Regions from separate parts of the Homo sapiens genome. Here region 2 is linked to region 1. Evidence: fine-mapped expression QTL. A gene starts in region 1. The other region holds a variant in brackets. All regions are shown on one strand. Distances are from middle to middle.

Region 1 (5,363 bases):
GTGCTGGGATTACAGGCGTGAGCCACCACGCTGGGCCTATTTTTTTTTTTTTTTTTTTGAGACGGAGTCTCACTCTGTTGCCCAGGCTGGAGTGCAGTAGCGGGATCTCGGCTCACTGCAACCTCCACCTCCCGGGTTCAAGCAACTCTCCTGCCTCAGCCTCCCGAATAGCTGGGATTACAGGTGCCCATCACCATGCCCAGCTGATTTTTGTATTTTTAGTAGAGATGGGGTTTCACCATGTTGGTCAGGCTGGTCTTGAACTCCTGACCTCAGGTGATCCACCCGCCTCAGCCTCCCAAAGTGCTGGGATTACAGGTGTGAGCCACCGCACCCGGTCACCTAACATTTATAATAGTGGTGTTTCTCAGCCTTTCATGTGCATTCAAATCACCTGGGAATCTTGTTGCCAACCTGAGATTCTTGGGCCTGAGATTATGCATTCCCGTTAAGCTTCTGGGTGGTGCCAATGTCTCACTCTGAGTAGCAAGAGTTCAAAGGATTTGGTGATGGTAAAAGTAACCCTTTAATTCAGTTAAATGACCAGATGGGATCAATCACCTTGAAGATCTTGAAATAATAGTAGCCTCATGACATCAAGTGTGAAGGTGACTGTTGGTACTTGTCTGGTGAAGACAACTTTGGAGGAATGGGAAGAAGGACTGGCGTGTGTCGGGACACATGTGTGCACATGGACACATGTGAGTTTGTGTACATGGGACAGCTAAGGGATGGATCCGTAGTAGACAGCCTTTTTTTTTTTTTTTTTTTGAGATGGAGTCTGGCTCTCTTGCCCAGGCTAGAGTGCAATGGCACGATCTCGGCTCACTGCAACCTCTGCCTCCCACGTTCAAGTGATTCTTCCGCCTCAGCCTCCCGAGTAGCTGGGATTACAGGCACCTGCCATCATGCCAGGCTAATTTTTGTACTTTGGTAGAGATAGGGTTTCACCATGTTGGCCAGACTGGTCTCGAACTCCTGACCTCAGGTGATCCACCTGCCTCTGCCTCCCAAAGTGCTGGGATTACAGGCATGAGCCACCGCCCCTGGCCGACAGTCTTTGGACTGGCTGTTCAGGTCATGATTCTCCTCCTCTGGGAGTGTCTCTCAACGGGGAAAAGTGGACTGACATGTTTGTATCACAAAGCACTTTCTGCCCTGGCCATAGCTGATTGACCGTGGCCTGATCTGGACTAATAAGATTCTTTTTTTCTGGGAATCGGGAACTTTGAACCAAGAGACATCCAATCTGGCAGTTTTGATTCTGATTAATGGCAATGATCTAGAAAGAAGATCCCTAAACTGATACTGCTACAGTTGTCCCTTAAAGCCTCCCCTGATCTCTGCCCTTCCTGAGCCTTGAGGAATTCAACTCCTCCTTGAATCCCCTGAGGTGCCCCACTGGGTATATGCGCCCACTCCTCATTTTCCTTGTTACCTACGTGAGTTTGCTTTCTAAATAATCACAGGTAACACAGAACTCCTTCCAGAAGTGGCTCCATCTGCTTCAATAAAAGGCAGTCCTGGCCTCACAGTCTCATTTCCAACCCAAATGTCCACGTAATTTTCAGACCGAGGCTTCTGCTCAAGCCGGGCACCCCACTACCCACACCTCCTTGTTCACCTATGGCTCCCACTTCTACTGAACTGCGCGATCACTGTGATTTTGGGGGTGGCAACAGGGCCTAGGAAACATTTTAGAGGCACTTCTCTTGCCTGAAAGAAAACGTTCTTCCCCTTTTTGTCTCTGATGAATCTTTACTGGATCTTTGGGACCCAGCTGAGTCATCCCGACCTGCAGACTGGACTCCCATCCCCAGGCTTAAATTCCTTTCCAAGGGCTCTGTCTGTCCTCTCGGCTTAGCTTCTGTGTTAAAACCCCCTCCATCTGCGTCTCCTCCCCAGCAGAATGAGCTCCTTGAAGTCAGGGCCCGCCTTCTGCTCCTCTCTGTGCTCCACTCCCCCAGTTCAGCACAGTGCTCCCAGGGAGGTGTAAGCGACTTACGGTGAATGAAAGGGCGTGAAGGGGAACAGGAGGGGCGGTTTTCTTCATTTACCAGAAATTCAAAATTGACCAAGTAAACCCCTTTGGAGACCAGGCACGATGCTGGGCACTGGGAACGGGGGTAGGGGTGGGGGGTGGGGGGGTGGTAGGGAGGAGGGGGTACCCAGGGTACCCACGGGCTCTGTCGCCCGTGGGGAAGGATGGGCATTTACCCTTCCCATTCATCAGGATGGGAGGGCCACGGACTCCCCCCACGGCAGTGCCGGGTAGACCCCTGCACCACACCGTGCCAAGGCCCTTTCTCACAGTCACGCCAGGAACTCTAGCCATGCTCTGACTTCTCAAGCAGAGTTCAGTCACCCCGAGGAGGTGGGACCCGTCTCTCTCCTCCCCACAAATGAACCAGTTCTCCAGTGATCCTACTTCCTTTTTTCCCTCTCCCACGCTAAAACTGGTCACGAGGGACCTAAAGGAGGGGCAGGCACCCAGGCGGCTCCCTTCCCCGCACGCATCGCGGCCAGTCCAGCCCCTCCCGGCCGCCCACGGGACCCCAGCCGAGCCTGAGCCAGGCGCCCACCGCCCCCACGCGCAGGGCCGGCGCCCGCGGAAGACTCGGCTCTCCCTGGCCTCGACGCCGCTCCCCTCCCTGGCGCCAGGGGGCGCTGCCTCCCCACGACCGTCGCCATGGTCACCGCTGGCGGCGGAGAGGGGTTTACGTAAAGGACGCAGCGTCCCCCGGGGGGCGGAGGCGGCCTTCGCGCCGGCGCCGGCGCCCTGCGGAAGCGGCGTTAGTGAATCGGGGCCTTGGGGAGCCCAGGATGGAGGTGGCGGTCGCGGCGGCGGGCCGAGCCCTGCGGCGGGCGGGAGGTAAGGGGGGCCTCCGGCGCGGCGGGCCGGTCCTGGGCGCGGGCGCGGTGCGAGCGGCGCGGCGGGCTGGGCAGTGTCCAGGGCGCGCGGTGGCCGGCCCGACGGGTCGGCGGGCGGAGTTGCAGCTGCCACGCGCGCCCGTGGCAGGTGTGAGGTCTGTGGAGCCCCTGGCACCAGCGTGGGGATGGTGACACGCGTGGCACGGGCGTGGGCAACGTGGGTCCGGCACAGGCGGCGTGGTTTTCCTGGAACGGGTCTCAGAAGACTCGCCTCCACCTTGGTGCGGTGGTGGCCACGCAGGTGTGAGGTGGTGCAGCTGTCTGCACAGGTAGGTGATGGGCACGGCCTTCGGACTGGTTATGGGATAGGTGGCCAGCTCGTGCCGGCATGGTGGTGCCGCTAGCATGGGTGTGAGGAAGTGCTGCCATTGCTTGGGTGTTGGGATGGTTCTGGCCTTGGGCTTGACATGATCTGGGGTGATAGCACTGGGGGCTTGAAGAATTGGTGTTCTCAGCATGGCTAGAGTTCCTGGCATGACTGTGAGAAAGGGCCTTGGCACGGTGTGGTGCGGGGGGCTACCCGGCACTGCCGCGGGGGGAGTCCGTGGCCCTCCCATCCTGATGAATGGGAAGGGTAAATGCCCATCCTTCCTCACGGGCGATGAAGGGGACACTGCCTCTGTCATGGGGGTCCAGTTTTAATGCCTGTTGGGTACACTGGACTGAGGAGGGCAGAAGGCTGGGAGAAGGTTGGTGTCCTTTATAATGGGCATAAACAAGAGATGCCAGGAGAAGCTTCTACCACAAGGGCCCTGATGGTAACCCAGATAGAGACCTTCCAGGCACTACCGTTGTCCTGGGCTAAGGTAGAGAGAACCATTCATCTAGCTTTTCATCTAGCTTTGGGAATGAAGGGAGGGGTGGATGATTTTCAGTGGTGATCGGTGTCCCAGAATATGTCCTGAGAAGCAAGCAGGACCAAGAGGTAACCCGGGTCAGCGAGTGAGGGAGTGGTATGGCGCACCATCTATCTGTAGTCACGGGGTCCTGCCTTCTCCCTGGGTTGATGGGTTCACTCCAGGGTATCTGGGAGTTGCCTCTCTTCTTTGATGCTGGGGAGCCTTTGGGTCCAGAGGATTGGATCGATTGGGGTATGCTTGAAAGATGATTCTGCAGCCACTGGGAATCTGCTGGGGCCACCGGGACTCCCACCCCCAGGCTTAAATTCCTTTCCAAGGGCTCTGTCTGTCCTCTCTGCTTAGCTCCTATGTTAAAACCCCTCCATCTGCGCTGAGATTGTGTTTGCTCTCACCAGTCCTTTGGGAAGCTTTGGGTGAAGGTCTCACTCAGCATCACCTAGTGCCTTACTTTACAGAGAAGCAATTTGCAGCTCCTCCTAGAGAAGTCTTACAGTGTAGGGGAAATCTTCAGTTCTTTGTGGATCTCTTGGGGGAGTGGGATCAGTGGTAGAAGAATCACAGGGTTGAGCTTGTGCTGGGGAAGGCACTTATGAGTCCAAAAAGATGATGTTGAGGGTAGGGTGGCAGGTGGTCGCCAAATTGCCAAGGTGGGTGCTTGGAGATGCTGATGAGTTCCCTATAACCGGAGCACTGTCCGATGCCTTTGGAGCCATATCACTTTAATTCCAGTGTTGGCTGTGTGACCTTCAGCAGGTGACTTCACCAATCAAGGCATGTCACATGGTGGTCTGGTAGTAAAGAATGAAAGGAAATGGTGCACGTGGAAACACTTTGCAAACAGCGAAAGACTGTACAAAGGTCAGAGAGTCTCATCAAGTAAAGAGACCAGGGCTGGAGGCAGGAGCCATAGGAAATGGTGGCACGGGATGTGATTGGGAGGAAGGGAGCCGGAAGGTTGAGGGCCTGTCATAGGGAATTAGAGGCCCTGAGCGCACATGCTCCCGGTGGGGGCAAGTGGGATCTGTTGACACTGTGAGTCAGCTGCTGAGCTGGAACCAGGCCCCCGGTCTCCAGAGGACAGTCCTGAGCATGGCCCCGGCAGCTGTGAAGTCCTGCAGGAGTGGCCCAAGCAGGAGGAAGCACTTTGCTTGGGCAGCAGACGTGCCTCATTGCCAGGGTAGGTCTGGGAGGTGTCTGTGGCTGACAGATCTAGGGTACCTGTGTGGGAGGAAGACTTGGGAAGTGTGTGTGTTTTCTCTGGAGAATTTCCTTTGGCTCTGGGTTCTGAGAACGGGGGTGGGGAGCAGTCACATCAGCGTCTTTTGGGCTGTGGCCTGAAGGAAATGAAGTGGGTCAGAGCATCCACAGATCGATGTGGCTCAGGTCTGGATGGTTCTGCGGGAGGTTGAGGCTGGATGGCAGGGGGACGGGGGGGGGAGGTGTGGAGGATGCCCTCAGACACATAGGGGAAAGGAAAGGGGGCTACAGGCACCTCTGAGGGCAGACAGGTGTGGCACCTCTCCCAATGTGGCCCCACTTCTGGCTGAAGTGCCTTCCCAGGTGGGGAGGATG
Region 2 (5,363 bases), 31 kb after region 1:
CTGTCATCATCCTCATCCTATTTTATAGACGAGGAGAGGGCTGCGTTGTATATTGAAGGTCACAACTCTGTGGCCGTTTGAGTAAATCAAGGCACTGGGACCAAAGCCGGGTCCAGTCCTGTCCTCCACCCGGCAGCAGGGGCCTTCTGAGCCCCTGCCCCTTCCTGGAGGCCTTGTGCTTGGGTCCAGCTTTGCCCTGCCTGGGGTGATGGGAGGGGATAGGGAGGTCTGAAGGACAGAATAGTCAGCTGTAGGCCCAGGTCTCTAAGCTTCTGGGTCAGTGACTTTTTTCTGTGGCCCCTTTTGCCCTCCTGGCTCAGGCGAGGGGAGGAAATGCTGTGATCATTGTGTGAGCTCAGGCACCTGTATGTAGCCCCCAGGCTCTCTCCTTGGCCATTCTGCAAGTAAAACTCTAAAAGTCCAGACTAGAATGGACCTGAGAGCATATCCTGCTTAGTGGCTTTCAAACTTTGTTTGTTTGTTTGTTTGTTTGTTTTTTGAGACAGAGTCTAGTTCTGTCACCTAGAGCTATTTTGGGAGGCCAAGGCTGGCTGGAGTGCAATGTCGCAATCTTCGCTCACTGCAACCTCCACCTCCCGGTTCAAGCAATTATCCTGCCATAGCCTCCCAAGTAGCTGGGATTACAGGCATGCACCACCACGCCCCGCTAATTTTTTGTAGAGACGGGGTTTCACCATGTTGGCTAGGCTGGTCTCGAACTCCTGACCTCAGGTGATCCAGAGCAGCTGAAAGCTGCTGTGGTTGACATTGCCTGCAAGCCCACTGAAGCCTGCCCACTATGGCCACCTCCCCTCATCTGGGGTCCCTGAGGGCTTCTGGAAACCCACTGAAGAGCACTGAGATCCCCCTCATTGAGCACAGAAGGAGAGGAGGGTGACAGAGGGAGGGGACGGGGCTGCAGCCTGTGTGCCATTGGTGGTGGCAGGTGCCACCTCCCTCTCCAGTCTCTGTGGGGGCAGGGGATGTTGGCCCTTCCTGTCACATACTAGAGCTCTGCAGAACCTCTTCCCCTGGGGAAAGAGCTCCTGTTACGAAGTCACTTGATCCCTGCTTGCTTCCGAGATGCCCGGGGTACAGTCGAAGGGAAACCCAATAGCCCAGTTGGCCAGCCTGTGCCCTAGATGGCCATGCAGCTTAGGGAGGTGGCCCACGAAGCCTCCCCACCTTTGAGCAGCAGGCACCCACACCAGCCAGACCCCGAGGGCCAACCCACAGCCTGAGGAGAGGAGGCAGCAGGACCAGGGCTCAGGGTAGGCTGGGCAAGGGGGCGGGGGCCCCAAGAGGGGAGGCATCAGGCTAGGTGTGCCCACTTAGCATATCATTAACAGCTTCATTAGGGGGCCCCTAATGAAGTGGAAGGTACTAATTCTTCACTGAGGCGTTGCCAGCACCCAGACGGAGTCTCCTCTCAAGGAAGTTCTGAGAAGCCAGAGCGCTGGGATTCGTGCTGGGAGCTGATGAACTGCCTGGCAGGGGGGCCATCTGGGGAGTGAGGTCCCAGCAAGTGGCTCCTAGGAGAGGGGGTGACTCTGGGGGGAGGAGCAGAGGGTGGGGCCAGTGGAAAGCTGGAAGGGCAGATGGGCTTAAAGGGAGGGGGGACCGCTACCTCTCAGGGCATCCTGCGTTTGAGCTGGGAAGGGGCCTGCAATGAGACACCCTGAAACTCAAACATGCAAGCTGATAGATGCGGGGCATCCTGGCAGGATCTCAGGCTTTGGAGTGTTCTAGAGTCTTGTGGCCTTGGGCGAGAACTCTGTGGCTCAAGCTGTCCCAGGGGTGTTGGGTCCCCTCTCCCTGGGTGGTTGTGGATTAAAGGAGGCAGTGCCAGTGCGGCCGTGCTGGGCTCCTAGGAGTTGGAGCTCTCCCTTTCCAAGAAGGCAAGTCAGAGGATTATGCAGGCTGGAAGGGTGAGGGCAGGTGTGGGTCAGCCTGCTCACCTGTCTGTTTGGGAAGATTGACTTAGATCGCGGAGAGTTATTGCCCCTGCCATGCAAGGTGAGGTAAAGGTTCTGCGCACACTGGGGAGACATGGTTACTAAATCACAATGATGGCAGCTCCTGTTTTCTAAGAGCTGAGCACTTTATGTGCGTTATTTCGTTAACTCCTCATGACTCACTCACTATGAAGTGAGTACCTTCATTATTCCATCTTACAGATGAGGAGACTGACGCTCAGTGAAGTGACAGTCATAGACAACTAGAAGTGATGGAACTAAGATTCAAATTCGGGCTGCCCTGCTCTGGGGCCAGAAGGCAGGCCTCGGTCAGCTCATTGGATGGCCACCCCCTCCAAGTCGATGCCTTTGAGAGAGTCGCGTTCCCGGGAGAGTGGGGTAAAGACGTGTTAGGGCATGAGGGGACTGACCAAGAAGACCACCGGGGCAGGTAGAAAGGACGAAAACCACAGACACCCTTCCCCACAGACAGGCAGGAGAAAACAGCCTGGTGCCACCCAGTGTGGGGCGGTGTCGGCCTTTGCGTGAGGGCTTGGAGATCCAGGCTGCCCGGCCGCACCCATCACAGAGGCCAGCAGAACCCGCCTGTCTGGGCCTCTCCAGAGGGGATGTGGACGTGTGGGACAAGGGCTTGTTCTGAGTTTCAGAAAAATGAATAATCTCCAAGGAAGAATCCAGAAGCCAGACCTGGTCTGGCCAGAGCCTGGGGGACTCCTTCCACTGTTGGAAAACATTGTCGGAGCACAGGACTGAGTGGGCTCTGATGTGAATCCCCCTGGGAAGAGAGGTCAGAGGAAGGCTGGGGGCAGGAGGAGGGCCCAGCCTGGTCGCCAGGGAAGGGTGCTGCTGCCCTCCTGGCCCTCACTTCCCGCTCCCCAGCAGCCAGCCATCTTTCCAAAATAACCAGCAGGAAACGAAAGGCCTCAATTGATTCCCAGGGAGTTGGCTGGTGTCAGTAGCAGGGCTGGTGGCAGATGGCAAATTCTGCTCATTGTGGATGAGTAGAAAATAATTAGC[G/A]TGAGAACGAGTAGCTGGAGCCTTGGTAATAAATGGAGCCCTGGTGAAGCCTTCTGGGGAGAGGCCTGGAGCACAGGCCCTGCAACCTCAGGCCTGGCTCTGCCGCTGAAGAGCTGAGTGGCCTTGGGCAACTTATTTAGCCTCTCTGGGCCTCCATTTCTTCATCCATAATACAGGGCATAAGAGGTTGTTAAAAGGATTACATTAAAGGAGGTAATTTTTGTGAACTGCTTGTTAAAGTAACCAGCATGTAGTAAATGCTATATAAGAGTTTGTTTTTAAATAAACACGATCGAGTAATTGTTGGAACTATTTCTGGGTCCGGCCCAGGCTGGCATTGCCCCCAAGTCACTGGAGCTTCTCTTTCCGTCCTCCTCCCTGAACTCTGTGCCCAGCTCCCTGACTGCTGTTTTATAGGGGAGGGGTCTCTGGCCAAGAAGCACGAGGAGGGCACAGAGAGAACACAGCAGGTAGACCTGGCTTCAGAGCCTGACTTGGACACTCACTTGCTAGCTTCTTTAAATTCTTGGAGCCTCAGTTTCCCGATCCATGACATGCGAACAGCTAGACCCACCCCTGGGGTTGTAGTGAGGATGGTTATGTGGCTGGCACATGGTGAGGGGTGGAGGAGGTGCCTCCTCTGGTCCTTCCAGGCCATCCTGGGGGAGAGTGGGAAAGGCGTTTGTTAGCCTAAGACCCTGGGCGGCGGGTAGGAGGGGACAAATGTCAGTGGCCTCCCACTCCTGCCCCTGGCTGCACAAGGCACACTGTTTTCATCCCTAGGCCTGGGCGTGTGAGGACCTATCTCATGCTGAAATCTGGCCCCAGTCCTGGGCAGGCTCCGCTCTGCCTTCTGCTCTAGCGCAGCTGATGTGTGAAAAGCGACAGCTTTCAGGCCCCTAACTTGGGTTGCACACACCCAGGTACAGGCTGGTGGCGCACGTGGCCCCCAGCCCACACGTGCTTTCTCTCCGTCGTCTCCCTTGTCACCTCTCCCCTCCTGTGCTTTCAGAGGCCAGCCTCTCGGCCACTGGGAAGAAGGGGAAGGTACTGTAGCCCCGGGAGCCTGGGGTGGGACCTGTGGGTCCTACTGTCTCTGTGTTTGTGACAATAAGGAGTCAGACTGACAGGCAGAGAGGGTATTTTTTTCTTGCAAGTAGTTCAAGGAAGCTACTTGAAATCCCAGCTCTGCGATGTCCTCGTGGAGGGATCTTCGTGCAAACCATTTTGCCTCTCTGAGCCTTGGTTTCTTCATCTGTAAAGTTGGGGTAATACCCTGTGGCCTGATGAGGCTGGAGGTGGATGACACATAGTGTTTCTAGTGCCTTGCTCTCTCCCGACTCCACAGCCTGCTCCGTGGAATTCCCCTGGGCTCAGTTTTCCTCATCTGCAGAATGGGTCCCGTGCTATCCCACATGATTGTGAGTCTGAAGCTAGATGAAGACCCAGAGAGCTCCTCAGTCTGTAAGAAGAGGCTTAGAGCCAGCTTTTGAGTTCAGAAACAGGCATTTAGCTGAATCCTGCTTCTCAGAAACAGCATGCAGAGGTAAAGACCTGGGTTCTGGGCCTAGGCTGTGTGGCTGTGGGCAAGTCACTTCAGCTCATCTGTCAAATAAGGGGAAGGGTAGTACCTACCTCACAGAACTGTTATGAGGACTAGGTGAGTTCATGTTTGTAAAGGGCATAGATGTGCGCCGAGACCTTGTAGGCAATTCATAAATGTTAGGAGAACCGAAGCAGCCCAGTCCCCAACTTATAGGTGGCTGAGATCATTCTGTCCCTGTCACTACCCAGGATCCTGGAGCCTGCAGTTTCACCAGTGCAGAGAGGTTAACTCGCTACCACAGTCCTGCAGCCACAGTGAACAGCTGGAATCTCACCACGACCAAAGCCTGTGCTAAAGAGAGCAGGACCTGTCTGCCAGCCCAGCGAGGCCAGACAGCGACCTGCTGGTGAGCCCACCCTAGCTGGGGTGGAGCCTCTGAACACAACGCCTCTGCTGGGGGGCGGGCCACCAGTGTCCTGCGGGGCACCACTGGGGGGCCCAGCCTCACTGTGCTGAGTCCCGCAGATCAGATGCCCACCCCCAGACCAGATAAGCTCCAGTGCCCAACAAGGCACATTCAAAATCGGATGGACCACGAGAGCATAGCAGGCAGTAGGCATCAGTTCCTCTCCACTATTTTGGACCACCTTCCAATTTCAAAGCCCTTTCACATAGGAATCCCATTCGTCATGGAAATGGGAGTCCTGGGCTCTCCCTTCAGGACACCAAGGGTCAAAAAACCCTGCAGAGCGAAAAAGAGCCCTTACAAACTTGCCAGTTTCCACATTTACTTTGGCAACCAGGAAGTGTGGCGTCCAGTGCTA

Which allele goes with the higher level. Positions count from the first base shown, and alleles are read on the strand shown. Sizes are in standard deviations (SD) of each study's normalised expression.
In carriers of allele G in region 2, the expression in cerebellum of the gene that starts at base 2,759 in region 1 tends to be lower than with A alone (large effect, 0.94 SD a copy in GTEx).

The links.
Region 2: its variant is fine-mapped to the expression of DAGLA in cerebellum (GTEx, PIP above 0.99). The same link has a PIP of 0.9 or more in cerebellar hemisphere.

What each region holds. Positions count from the first base shown.
Region 1 is chr11:61,677,633-61,682,995 of GRCh38, forward strand. It overlaps DAGLA (diacylglycerol lipase alpha), which reads left to right and starts at 2,759. Exons shown (of 20, transcript NM_006133.3): 1 at 2,759-2,872. RefSeq lists an enhancer at 4,956-5,363.
Region 2 is chr11:61,708,740-61,714,102 of GRCh38, forward strand. All of the region lies in intron 1 of DAGLA (diacylglycerol lipase alpha), which reads left to right. Among named protein-coding and RNA genes, the nearest start is that of DAGLA, 31 kb to the left of the region's middle. The variant G/A (reference allele first, on the strand shown) is at 2,994.